Homo sapiens: one gene and its partner. The protein of the gene in region 1 interacts with the protein of each later gene in a biochemical or structural test. Each region holds a gene or a part of one and is shown in the gene's direction. Other genes may lie near its edges.

Region 1 (7,447 bases):
AGATTATCCCATTACTAGCCACCCTTAGCTATTGGATACTGGAAATGTGGTTAATGTGACTGAAGAACTTATTTTTAAATTTAATTTGATTTGAATTTAAATAGCTACCTGGGGACTAGGACACTATATCGGATAGTGCTGGTCTAGAGGACATAATTTAGGATGAGGGATCAGGAAAGATCTCTCAGATGCAAAAATGTGTGAGAGAAGACTTGGAGCATGAGTTGCTATAGCCAAGTAAGAAGTGAGGTGAGGGAGAGGAGGGTGGAAGATGTGTGGTTAGGCCACAGGAAACAGGAAGGGCATTCCAGAGAGAAGCAGGGGCAGGGAAAATCCCAGGAAGTGGAGAAACTTTAAAAAAAGGGATTTTTAGTGTTGAGGAATCAGATTCTGTTTCAGAAATCTTACAATATAATGACTTTGTGTTGTCCCATAGTTTATCTCATCATGGTATTTCAATCTGGGGTGGCAATAAGTAACATGTTCCGGCAGGACGTACGTAACAGAGCCAACTCCCTAATATCCCACCTTTCTCAGTGCAATTTCATTTGCAAAAGGCTTACTGATCTTTAGGGTCTATTTTTGTGTGTTTTTTTTTTTGATTTTTGTTTTTTGCTTAGGAGCCTCAATTTTATCATACAGTACCATGTCTTATGAGTAATAGATTTTATAAGTTTATTAGCTGCTATTGGGTTTGCTCTCATGTGGCCTTTTATTACCATTTTAGAGTCTAATAAGTCAACTGATTTCAGTTTGTTCACCCTCTTCATATTTATATTTACATATTTTTTGATTTTATAAACTTTGTTTGATTTTTACATGGTAAATAAGAATAGTGACTCACTTTCCCACATATACCAAAATGTTTAATGCTTCATCTCAAAAAATATCAATGGAAGGCAGATGAGTGAATTCTTGCAACCTTAAAATATAATTTAATGTCTTCTTTGTATTTCATATGGATGAATCACCTCCCAATAATTTAAAAGCTATGTATCTGATATATGTATATATATACATGTATATATAGAGAGATATAGCAGATATATATATATATATATATACACACACATAGCAAATATATATATATATATGAATTTAATTCCCATCGTGTTATGATTATTCAAATACTGGGCAATAATTTCCACTTATCAAGAAGAAGTGGATTTATCTTCTAAGAATACTTAGTTTAATTCTTTTGGTAGACTAATTACTATTTCAAAACTCTTTTAATTAAAAATAAATCTCATTCCATTTTAAACTCCCTTTCCCACAAGCCTATTCATTTTCACCTGACATCACCTTTTATTTTTTGCAGATGTTTTTGATGTAAACCATTTTTTCTGGAAAAGCACTTCTCTATTTTTCTATTAGTTCGGAAGGTTTTTGGATTTTGCAGACCCAATATTCTTGGAGATACTTATTATGGCTCACTAAATAGAAACGAGGTGTAAGGGTTAGCACACGAATTGGGAAACAGGAAGTTTTGCTATCTAACCTGGGTTTCCACCTTATTGCGTGATTTCAAGTAAGTTGCTCACTAAGAAGATGCTACTCTCGGTTCAATGGATTTTATATATGATTTATGTATTTTTCTGATTTTCTAAAGGTTATTTAAAAGTTTTTAATGACTAGTTGAACTGGCCTAATCAAAAAAAGTGTCAGAGATGAAACAAATATGAACTTGAGCCTCTACAAGGTATTCATGTTAGTTCTAAGGACTGCAGACTGGAGTGTACCAACTTTTACTCCCCTCTTGACCAGCTCAACACCACTCAGGACATTATTTAAAAACAGTCTTTGTGTCTGTTACTGAACAACTGCAGGGCTGTAGCCAGAAATATGAGCTTGCTTCATGGCTAACAGTATAAAAGTTATTCAAATGTAATAGCAAAGCAAAGTGGTAAAAATTAAGGAAGCACAATAAAGGGGAAGATTGAAAAATAAACTTGGTCACATAAATTGAATGTTAAGAAAGCCATGTCGAGAGATACGAGAAAGAATATTTCTCTGAGAGTGCACTACACAATGGAAAGAAGGGGACTTCCTGGGAATTGAGGACCTTATATGAATTAAATTCCAATCATGTCCTGGACCAAGTGTCAGCGCTTACTAAAGACAGTTTATTTAAGCAGCGACCTTGGCATCAAGCATGGCCAGACTTGATCCCAAGCTCCTTTAACTTCTATGAATCTCAACTTTCTTCTCTTTAAAAATGAAGATAATTATACCTACTTTGCAGGCTAATATAAGGATTAAATGAGGTATTCTGACACTGGATGAAGAATAATTATTCCCCCATCCCTCTAACAACACCAACATGCATTCTTTAGAGGCGATTTGCAGTGGTTAGTGTGTCAAAATCAGACTGCCTGGGTTCAAGTCACAGCACTCACTAGCTGTGTGACCTTGGACAAGTTACTTAACCTCCCTGTGCTGTTTCATCATAGTAAAATGAAGCTATCAATGGTACTTTTCCCACAGTATTGTTATGAGGAATAAGGGAGTTAGTATGTATAGTACTTAGGACGGTGCTCAGTGCATAGTAACTAAACATTTTAAAAGTGTAAGCCAAAAACATTAAATAGTTTTGGATTCTTTCTACAAGTGATTAATTTTGTCTTTGGCTATATTCACATGACTGGACAGGAAGGCAGTAACAGCCTTGTTAGCTGTGGGCGAGTATCTCCTAATTCTGTTTGGGGCAACACCACCTGCTCCAGCTAGGGCTGTCGACTGTGGCAGGGCAGTGCAGGACAAGAGCCTCTGAGGCCAGCCAGTCTGCCCTGCATCCAGCCTTTGTCACTGACTTTGGGCAAGTTATCAACATTTCTGAGTGCCTCCTCCCTTGTGAAATAGGGATATTTTTTGCCTCTCCAGTTGGTGTTAGGATTAAAAAGCTAAAGTACGTCTAGCCCCACAGCCTGCACCCCGCAGAGCTACAGTGTAGCAATTGTTACCACATCATATATATATATATGCACATACATATATGTATACACTGTATATTATTTATATGGCAGTTAAGCCTCTGGGGATTTTGAAGTAAGGGAAACAAGAAGCCAGCTAGAAATGGGCCCTTTCTACCTGTCATTCGGTCTCAGTAAGAGGAAGAAAAACAATTTCTTCCTTTTGCAACGAAGTGATTACAGAGGTCTCCCCTTGGACCCTGATTTTCACCGCCCCTCGCCCCACAAATGCAGGCAAAGGCACTATCCCTTCCAATTTTATAATCTACTCATTTCTGTACGTGCGGGTTTATCTGGCTTGGTGGCAAGCCAAGGGTGGGTGGGGAGAGGCATTAAAACCTGGCAACCCCGCTCCCCCATCTCCGGATGCCGCAGGGCTCCTGCCAGCCGTCCTCGGTTAAAAACGTGCTTATGGATTATTTCACTTCCCTGCAGTTCATGTGCAGCCGCTCATTACCACCCGCTTCAATCACCGCTGCCAGCATCTCCCCTGAACGTTTTTCCCTCCCCCGATTTCAGGGCCATTGGTCATAACCGACATTTAAAGGAAATAAACACTGATTTAAAAAATTACAACACCCATCTCTGCCTGAAGAGCCCAGAAGCAATGAATAACAGAACAGTCCGGCGAAGAGAGCCTGTCGGATCTTAGCTCCGCCAGCCCTTCCTGCCTTACAATTCCCCACAACCGAGCAGCACAAATCACCATTTCCAGGCACCACTCGAGTCTGCCAATTCCACTTTCGCTTAATCTCATTTTAAAATCCTCTACAGATGAGGCTCTGTCGCTGCCGCGAGGGGCCGGGCGGCCGCGGCGGGAGGGACAGGGGGCCTGGGTGGGAAGGGAGCGCGAGGGCCCCTAGCGGTTCGCGGCCTCGGGCGGATTCCCAGAACGAGTGCGGGCCGCCCGGACTGGCAGACTGCGAGCCCCGAGGGGCGCGGGACGCAGCCGGCTCAGACAAAGAAACCGGCGCCAGCGGCCGTCCCTGCCGCCCCTCTCCTTCCCTCACGCATCCTCCCAGGAAAAACAGGGCACACTGACGGCCAAAGGGGCTGGCCTTCCCCTTCAGACAGCTGGACGGGAGGTGCCCTCTGCGGGGCTTTGACGTCCCTCGCAGAAGAGTCGCGGGCTCAGCGGTCCTCGACAGCGTCCCCGTCCCGCTCCCCGGCGGGCGCCCCTCCCTGTCCTCCCGGGTGCGAACCGGGCGCTGGCCGGGGACTCCGGGGACGCGTGCGCCCCTCGCCGCGCGAGGTGCCGCCGAGCCAGCCCGAGAGGGCGGGGGGCGGGCGGGGCGGCGCGCGGGGGCGGGGGAGCGGCCGGGACACGTGTGGCGGCGGCGGGGGGGACGCGGCGCCCGGGGCTTTAAGAAGGTGTGGAGCGGGGCGGGCGCTTTCCCAGGCCTGGCCGAGGGGCGTCGCGCAGAGGCGGCGGCGGCGCACGGAGGCGGCAGACGACGCGCTCTCGGCGCCCGCAGCCCCGGTCCCGCGCTCCCGCGGCCCAAAGTAACTTTGGGAGCCGCCGTCTCCCGCGGAACTTCTCGGCGGGGGCCCGCTCCCAGGCCCGCTCCCGAGCCCGTTCCGCTCCCGTCCGCCTTCTTCTCGCCTTCTCTCCGCGTGGCTCCTCCGTCCCGGCGTCTCCAAAACTGAATGAGCGAGCGGCGCGTAGGGCGCGCGGCGGCGGCGGCGGCGGCGGCGGCATGGAGCGCAGTGGCTGGGCCCGGCAGACTTTCCTCCTAGCGCTGTTGCTGGGGGCGACGCTGAGGGCGCGCGCGGCGGCTGGCTATTACCCCCGCTTTTCGCCCTTCTTTTTCCTGTGCACCCACCACGGGGAGCTGGAAGGGGATGGGGAGCAGGGCGAGGTGCTCATTTCCCTGCATATTGCGGGCAACCCCACCTACTACGTTCCGGGACAAGAATACCATGGTAGGTACCGCAGCACCTCCGCGCTCGCCGCCGCCGGGTGCGCCCGCCAGCGCACCTTTCTCATCCCTTTCCTTCTTCCAAGGGGCCTTGGAAACAAGAACCATGACAACCCTGGCCCCAGCGATGCGCTTGGTCCAGGGAGCGAGAATAAAGTTAGTGGAGAATGGAGTCACAAGTTGGGATTCATTCTCCATGTCCCCACTCCCCGAACGCATCTCCTGGTAATGAGCTGGTGCTTGTGCTAAACGCCTGAGAATTCTTGGAGGCCGGTGTCTTTCCCCCTCACTCCCCGTACTTACCGCAGGCACTTTAAATTGAACCTGCGCATTTTGTTTCTTTACTCCTAGGACTTGGATTTCAGACCTTTGTCCTGCTCCCGGTCCCCCCAGATGGGTCCCCGGGGGGGCGTTGGGGGCTGTCGCTGGGCTTTGCGGGCAGGCTGGTGACAGATTGAAGCGCCCAGGTCTGTGGCTGCCCCGCGCCGCTCGACCGCAAAGTTCCCGCTGCTCACCAGCCAGGAGTCCCTGGCATTTCATTCAGTGTCATACAGCCCTCCTGAAAGGGAGCGGCTGCTTCCAGCTCCCTATTCTTTTGAAAGTGTGATTTAATATGTCAGTAATTGATGATTTTTCTGATTCCTGCCTTACTTTTACATGGTGCTTCTTGTTAGAATTATCTTTGTGATGTTTATTAATGACTTTGTATTTTATCTGCACAGCTTTAATTTCCAGGTAGAGGCTGGAATCCCTTATAATTTAGAGGTATCTTAAAAATGGAATCATTATGCAGCCCTGCATCAAAAATAAACATTACAGAAGAAATAAAATTTAGCTCCAAGAAATATAATATTATGTAGTACATGTATTTTAAGCTAGTACATCGAGTATGTGGAAAAATAAAAAATGTCTCTTTTCTGTATTTCTTCTGGGACTTCTGAACATTTCATGCCTATAGAGCTTTTAAGCAGCGACAGGCACTATTTAATTAGAATTTCAACCCCAAAATATTTATACCCAACCAAATAGAAACCATTGTCCAGTAGGCTCCTGTTAATAGTTTCTATCTCTAATAGGCTAACAATCATTGGCATGGCGGGAGATAATCTACGGGGTGCTAGCACTTAAGATAGACAAGCATTTAAAAATTGTAAGAATCCTTAAGATTTTTCTGTTTTTAAAAAAACCTTGATATCTATTATAAAATATTTAGCCTAAATAAACGTCTCCTAGAGGTTTTAAACAGTGCTTTTACAACTTCCTTGTGGCATGGTGGCAGCCTTGTCTGTAAAGCAGAAGTTTAATTTGGTGGAATTTTAGAAATAATTTTGGAAAATTAATGTTCTGTAACTAGTCCCTTTTTAGATAAAAGTGCTTACTACGCCCTCTTCCCAAGAACAATCTAGTGCTTTTCTGAGATAATGAGAATCTTTAAGTGGAAGGAGCAGCTACTGTGATGGCAACCAGACCTAACCCAAAGCCTGATTGACAGCCTGCTGCTCCGTGCGACTCTTAGCAAAAGTTCTTGCCCGGTATGATCTCTCAGTGAGAACGGTGGGTAAGTGAGTGAGGCTGGTCTCAAAGGCGTGACTGTCAGGTTATGATGGAAGACCATGTGATGATACAAAGCTTTATTATTATTTTTTCTGTTTTCCACATCCTTTGGAAGGTCTCGATATTGAAAACTTAACTAAAAACACCAAAATATCATACACCCTTTGGTTTTGCTCCCTTGCACCCTTGAATAGCAAATGCAAGTCACCTTAAGACTCACCATAATCACATATCTAAGTCTGAAAAGGAATGGATAACATAGAGTAGAAATAAAGTGTAAATACTTCAAGTTGGACATTGCGGAGGAGAATCTCAATTTCCACCTCTTTTCCACCACCAGAAAAGGTAGAGAAATTGTATTATGTAAGTTATGAAAGGTCAAATTATTATAAGCTTTGAGAATTGTGTCAGATTTTAAATTTCTGTTATCTATTTTATTAAACATTTAGATTTTGGAACTAGCTGTAGCTATAGGCCTTAAAGTAAGAGTTTTTTTTTTTTTTTTTGTAAAATGTTCTACAGGTAGAATACATGTTTAAAAATGAAGTGATGCTTATGTATGTCTCTTTTCCTTTTAGGCTTTTGAAAATTAATTTAAAAAATTCAGACACACACACACACACACACACACACACACACACACACACACAGCTTCTGTTAGAATTGAACTGCCAATAGGAAAACTTAATCTCATGTACTTTTGTGGTTGGCCCATTTTGATATGTGACCAAAATGAAAGGTCTTTTGCCCAAGAAGTCTTCTTAAACTTACAAGAAATGTGTAAAATGTTAGCTTGAGACTTTATTTCTAACCTTCTGGATCTTTAAAGTGTAACAGTTATATCAGAAAAAATCAGTCACATTTATGATTTACATTGAAGTCACCATTTGAATGAACCATGTTTAGGTGTAGAGCTGATAGTTGTGACTTTTTTTTTTTTTTTTTTTTTTTACCTAAAAGAATGCATTGAGATAGAGGTGGTGTGCACAATAGCACCTAACATAG
Region 2 (7,000 bases), on another chromosome or scaffold:
TCAATTCCTCTCCTTAGGCTATTTTAACATTAGCAGGCAGTTATGGATATTAGCACTGACAGCTTCAATGACTTTTAGCTGGTTGATGTTAGCCTACCCCTTGGCTAGAAAGGCTAAAATCTTCTCTCCCTTGAATTCTAAGTACAACATCTCTTGTTACACTGATTGAGTTTTCTCCCCTTTCTACCTGATGAGTTTCTTTGCCCCTGTAGACCAGTATGGGTGACAATATTCAGTACTGGGGTTTGGCCTTCATTCTCCACACTAAACACATGTGTTGTTAGGGGATGCCCCTTGAACAGTATATTAGTCAGCTCAGACTGCTGTCACAAAAATACCATAAGTGGGTGGCTGAAACAACAGAAATTTATTTCTCATAGTTGTGGAGGCTGAGAAGAGACCTGCCAGTAGATCTGATATCAGGTGAGGGCTGTCTTTCTGGTTTGCAGATGACCATCTTCTCACTGTGTCCTTACATAGTAGATAACAAAGAGAGAGAGAGTAAGCGCTCTGGTTTCTTTTTATGAGGGTGCTAATCCCATTCATGGGGGCTCCACCCTCATGACTTAATTACCTCCCAGAGGCCCTACCTCCTAATAACATCATGTTAGGGGTTAGGATTTCCACACGTGAATTCTGGGTGGAGACAAACATTCAGTCCCCAGCAAGCAGTTCTACTATGATCCAGTCAGAAGATGGAATGTTTAGCTGTTAAATGAAGTACTTGAATGACTTGGAAGAAATGCATGTAGAAAATGAAAGTGTTACTTAATCTCAACATTATAAAACAGGCAGGAAGTTAAATGTAAGGTATCTCCGAGTTGTAAGATAATGGGCAACCTCTGTCTGACCTTGACTTCAGTTTCCTCCAAGTCTCTCAAATGAGCATCTTCCTCCTCTGAAAAAAAATAATAATTTTTCTGAAGTTTCCCCTGGATATTGGCAGTTGAGTGCCCATTGACTCAGCTTTTTTTTAGAGCAAAACATGCCAAAATGCAGTATGAGCCCTCATGTGAAGCTAGGGCTGTGGGTAAATGACTTCAACTTTAACCCTTCAAATAAACGTTTGTAGTAAAGAAGACGTGTGCTGAATCTGACTTCGTGTGCAACAATGGCCAGTGTGTTCCCAGCCGATGGAAGTGTGATGGAGATCCTGACTGCGAAGATGGTTCAGATGAAAGCCCAGAACAGTGCCGTGAGTGTAACTTGCTTTGGCCTTGAACTTTGCCAAGTTGTTCGGTGTCTAACATTTCTAAGTATTGCTTAATCTCCTACTTGGTATTCATTTTTCTTTGCCTGCCTTAAAGTTTAGGTCAATTGACTCCAAGGGCAGTCAAATCATTACCAGTTTATCAGCCTCCTTTAAAGAATGTTCTCCCTGGTCCAACAAGACTGACATTCTCTTGGGTAGCTTCACTATTGAATACTTAAAACTGAAGTCAGCAGATTCAATCAAGAACTCCTTGACTAGGTGCATAGATTTCAAATGTCTGTTTATAATAACTGAGCAGATGGTACTCTGGTCCTGGAAGCTAAGTCAAGAAGTGAGGGTTCCCTATGGGCCAAGCAAAAGCTTTTAGAAGCACAGCTTATCATACTATTAAAAAGCTATTACTGAAGAGGTAAGGTAGCTAGTAATTGGGTGATATAGTGACTCCTGACACACATGTAACCTCAAGTTACTAAAATGGAGATCTTACAGCATATTCTTAAATAAGAGAAACTTCATAGGTATGCAAGTATATACCTGTGTCCTTAGGAAAAAGTCTATGAGACCATAAAGAATGATGGTTTGGGATCATATAAATTGAGATCACACGAATGTCAAGGCAAAGAAAGTCTTAGAGTTTGAGTCAGTAGAGGCCTGCACTGGTAGAAACACTAAAAAAGGACTAACATGAACACAGTTTAGGTCTAAAGTGTGATTATGAAAGAAAATCAAATAGAAAGGAAGATAAGGCTGTTACTTTCAATTTTCTAGATAAGAAGTGAGGGGAGTAATATTGGTCAAGGCAAGTGAGTTCAAGGCCTGTGAGCTAAAGACAGGTTGTGTAAAGATTCAGCCTCAACTTTTAGTGGAGAATGACCTGGTCAAGTCAAGCATTAGGGCATGCTTCTACTTTGCAAGATGTCAATCTAAAGGACATTGTGAAGGAGGCCCATAAAGGAATCTAGGCAATAGAAGATTTTGTAGGTGTTTGACCATCTGACTTTTCATGTATTTGAGATTAGATGACAATATCTAGGTGTGCCCACTTGACATCCAACAGATAAATAGTGGTCTAGGAGCAGGCCAGCCAATAAACTTCACCACGCCAAGTAAAACAAAAGCCAGAACTGAGCACGCCATGGGACCTTGAAGGAGTGACGTGGTCAAAGCTGTCACGTACACTGCCAGGTAGCATAGGTTGGCACAGCTTCTAAGGAGTGGAGCTGATGAAAGAGCTCCCCGGGCTTCAGCCAGTTAGTAGAATTTCACCAGTGTGCCAGGCTACTGAGTCACAGGTATTAGCGCTTCCAGGCAGCACAGGAGCAGCAGCTTTGCATTGATCAGTTCTGAGGCTCTTTTGAGACTGTATATCATCAACAGATATGAGAACATGCCGCATACATGAAATCAGCTGTGGCGCCCATTCTACTCAGTGTATCCCAGTGTCCTGGAGATGTGATGGTGAAAATGATTGTGACAGTGGAGAAGATGAAGAAAACTGTGGTAAGAAGATCAGTGTTGAGTGACGTAACCCAAAGACCCTTTTCCTAAAGGAAGGGTGGGCAGGGGAAACTAATCTAAGCCTGAAGACGCACTGACATTGACTCACTTTTCAGTGACTTCACTATCTGCTCAATTACTTGTCCTTCATAACTGCCCTAAAACCCTAAAAGACATTCATGTGGCAATTGACCATCGCTTGGTGTTTCTTTTAGGCAAATAGAAATAAGAAGGTAAGTCATTCAAGGCACTTATATATAGAAGTAGCTCAGGGAAGCAGCAATTGTGTGGGCTTTTGTTTTGACAGTAATTCATGTGTCTTTTGCACTTTGGCACAATAAAATTAGAAGGTGAGTAGGGTTGGCAAACACATTCATAGGTCTAAATTTGATTGGGTTATTGGAATAAATTATTTGAGTATTATACAAGCATTTCTTTGCCCATGAACTAGATTCTGGCATAACTTTCCCAGAAAAAAAAAAAAAAAAGACACAGAAGCATGAATTAACATCTTGCCTCAGATACCCAAAGAAAAGTCTACCCAACTGGTGATACCTTTGTCTCCTGTTGCAGTTCCTGTCTCTGAAAGCTAACTCTGCTTCCTATTCTTTCATGTTTCTGGTCTTGGAAAATCTTTAATAAAATGCTGCATGTTGAAGGTGAGGGCCTGGGAAAATCACTAGGTTGAACAAACAGTGCTTTGAATGTTCTTTCAAGCTACTGCCCTTTTTATAGGGCCTCTAAAACCTACAGCTCCCAAGTCTGACAAGCATGGGCCTCCTGATATGGTAGTAGTCAAGGGAGCTCAGGGCACTTACAGTTGAAACACCAGTCTTGTGTGTAGAAGTCGCCTCCTGAGGTCAATACCACTGCACCTAGTCCAATGAGTTTTAGTGTTCAATCCTAGAATTGGGTTTTCTGTATTGGTAAGCCCTGGTGCTGCCAAGTGTTTCCCTTATAAATCTAGACTTTGCTTCCCAAGAGAGTCGTGGTCTCTATTCTAATTGCCACCAAATTGTGACCTTGAAACATTTGGCAGGAATTTAAGTCAAAGTACCAATTGGCTAGTAGGACTAGCTTATCATTGTCAGCATACCTGATTGTTAAATGGTGATTATAGCCCTGGCAGTGACTTTTTCAAAATGGAAAGTGTTTAAGACTTGTTATTCCTGATCCTTATTTAAAGGACCAAAAAGAGGAACCATATATGGTGGTATGTGGTTCACCTCTTTTGGTGACAAAGTCTTAATGCTTGTTGTGAGTATTACGTTGCATGATATTCTCAACTAGTGATAAGATCTGACAAGCAGTATGTTGATTCAAGGACAACTCAATCTCTGCCTTCCAAATTGAAATCCCTTGTTACAGTTTGTTATTTATGATGGCCACTTTTAGAATCAATTGTGGTTCTCATCTCAAATTAATTTCCAGTCTTCAACTATTTTCTTGGTTCTTTATTTCTGTTCTTCTTATTTATTGTGTGCCTTCATTTTTTGTACAATGAGACTGTACAAAAGTTCTTGATTTAACTCCATTGTAGCCTTTAAGTTGGGCTAGTAAGTTAGGATTAATGAATAAAGATCAATGTATTAGATTTTGGGACAAGAATCTTGAACGGACCAATCTTGATGCATTTTCAGTGGGGCATCCTCTCTCTTAATAGGCAATATAACATGTAGTCCCGACGAGTTCACCTGCTCCAGTGGCCGCTGCATCTCCAGGAACTTTGTATGCAATGGCCAGGATGACTGCAGCGATGGCAGTGATGAGCTGGACTGTGCCCCGCCAACCTGTGGCGCCCATGAGTTCCAGTGCAGCACCTCCTCCTGCATCCCCATCAGCTGGGTATGCGACGATGATGCAGACTGCTCCGACCAATCTGATGAGTCCCTGGAGCAGTGTGGCCGTCAGCCAGTCATACACACCAAGTGTCCAGCCAGCGAAATCCAGTGCGGCTCTGGCGAGTGCATCCATAAGAAGTGGCGATGTGATGGGGACCCTGACTGCAAGGATGGCAGTGATGAGGTCAACTGTCGTAAGTAGCTTTCTAGCATGGCATGTTCAGTTCTCTTCCCTGTATCAACTGGGACAATTTGCTGGCTTCATTCCATGGTGTTTCCTCCCTTTGTAGCCTCTCGAACTTGCCGACCTGACCAATTTGAATGTGAGGATGGCAGCTGCATCCATGGCAGCAGGCAGTGTAATGGTATCCGAGACTGTGTCGATGGTTCCGATGAAGTCAACTGCAAAAATGGTAAGGGTTTCTTCTTGTTGGTTAAGCAATGGATTGCTCTGACCAGACCCACTCATGGAATCTCTCTTCTTTGTTTCTCTTTGTAGTCAATCAGTGCTTGGGCCCTGGAAAATTCAAGTGCAGAAGTGGAGAATGCATAGATATCAGCAAAGTATGTAACCAGGAGCAGGACTGCAGGGACTGGAGTGATGAGCCCCTGAAAGAGTGTCGTAAGTGTACTTGTTGTTCAAGTACAGATCCTGGAAGTTTGACACAATCCAGTATAGCTAACACTGTGTGGACCCCCCGTGATGGCTAGTTAAACTTTTGAATGTACTGAAGTTCAATTGTAGACTTCAGAGTGAAACTTTATGACTTAAAAGCCCAGGTAGGACAAACTAGTTTATAGTTTTTGTTTTTGTTGTTTTTTTTTTTTTTTTTTTTTTGAGATGGAGTTCCACTCTTGTTGCCCAGGCTGGAGTGCAATGATGCAATCTCGGCTCACTGCAACCTCTGCCTCCCGGGTTCAAGCAGTTCTTCTGCCTCAGCCTCCTGAGTAGCTGGGACTATAGGCGCCCACCACCACGCCCGGCTAATTTTTTTTTTTTTTTTTGTATTTTTAGTAGAGACAGGGTTTCACCATGTTGGCCAGGCTGGTCTCGAACTCCTGACCTCGTGATCCACCCGCCTCGGCCTTCCAAAGTGCTGGGATTACAGGCATGAGCCACCGCGCCCGGCCCAAACTAGTTTATAGTTTAACCTCCTTAAAGATAACTGATCATCAATAGAGAAACTTGACTAAATGCTTGACCAGCTGGTAACTTGCCGAGGAGTTAGATAATCCACCCTGAAATATATACCTATAAAATAAATGATTAGGTCTTAGACAAATCGTGGGTTTGACCAGGCCAACTAGATAAGTTATCACAAATAGCCTGGGTTTTAAATGTGAAAGATATTAATTGAAAATAAGTTGTCAAGTGACTACTACATTTTTATTCCAGATATAAACGAATGCTTGGTAAATAATGGTGGATGTTCTCATATCTGCAAAGACCTAGTTATAGGCTACGAGTGTGACTGTGCAGCTGGGTTTGAACTGATAGATAGGAAAACCTGTGGAGGTGAGTCTAAGAAGAAAACCTGGACCCTGCAGGTGATGGGAAAGGATAGTATGTACCTAGTAAGGTATAGGAGCAGCAAGACTAATTCTGATTTCCCTCCCAGATATTGATGAATGCCAAAATCCAGGAATCTGCAGTCAAATTTGTATCAACTTAAAAGGCGGTTACAAGTGTGAATGTAGTCGTGGCTATCAAATGGATCTTGCTACTGGCGTGTGCAAGGCAGTAGGTAAATGAACTTGGACTGGTATGGCTGTTGTACCTTTATGAGTAAGTGCCTCTAAAAGGTACAGCCAGTGACTACAATAGTCAAACTAAACATGAAATTGTACTTGAGAACAATGCTGCTAACCTCATAATACAGCAGTATAGGTCAAATAGCAGATCTCTCCCCTAGATATGTACCTTGATCATTCCTTTTGCATATGATACCATGAATACCTACCAGGTTTGCATGCTCTGTTTCCAAAACTTGAGTCCAACTCAAACAAGTGACTTATTCATCACTCACCCTGTTCTTGAAGGCTGTAACCCCACGACTGCCTTCCTAAACTGTAGGAAGCACTTGCAGGTCCCAGGGGCAGGAACTCCAGAACAGATACTACTGAGGTATTCCACAATACCTTTATTTTCTAAGTGCTCCTCTGCTGGGAGGAGGTGGTTTAGAAAGACCTTGCCTTCTTAAAGCAAAACTAAGTAACCCAGACTTCCATCTTGCAGGCAAAGAGCCAAGTCTGATCTTCACTAATCGAAGAGACATCAGGAAGATTGGCTTAGAGAGGAAAGAATATATCCAACTAGTTGAACAGCTAAGAAACACTGTGGCTCTCGATGCTGACATTGCTGCCCAGAAACTATTCTGGGCCGATCTAAGCCAAAAGGCTATCTTCAGGTAACTTTCAGTTCCTTTTGTGGTGTCTTGACATAAGTCAT

The links. The genes of interacting proteins can lie anywhere in the genome.
Region 2: the proteins of RELN (region 1) and VLDLR form a complex in vitro, tested with the Homo sapiens proteins (6 studies listed by BioGRID).

Annotation. Positions count from the first base shown.
Region 1 is NC_000007.14:103,986,576-103,994,022, reverse strand, and holds the start of RELN (reelin isoform a precursor), read left to right. Parts: upstream 1-4,364; 5' UTR 4,365-4,666; coding exon 4,667-4,892; intron 4,893-7,447. UniProt on the Homo sapiens protein: Extracellular matrix serine protease secreted by pioneer neurons that plays a role in layering of neurons in the cerebral cortex and cerebellum by coordinating cell positioning during neurodevelopment.
Region 2 is NC_000009.12:2,638,787-2,645,786, forward strand, and holds part of VLDLR (very low-density lipoprotein receptor isoform a precursor), read left to right. Parts: intron 1-1,072; coding exon 1,073-1,195; intron 1,196-2,590; coding exon 2,591-2,713; intron 2,714-4,373; coding exon 4,374-4,745; intron 4,746-4,841; coding exon 4,842-4,964; intron 4,965-5,050; coding exon 5,051-5,173; intron 5,174-5,947; coding exon 5,948-6,067; intron 6,068-6,170; coding exon 6,171-6,296; intron 6,297-6,787; coding exon 6,788-6,959; intron 6,960-7,000. UniProt on the Homo sapiens protein: Multifunctional cell surface receptor that binds VLDL and transports it into cells by endocytosis and therefore plays an important role in energy metabolism.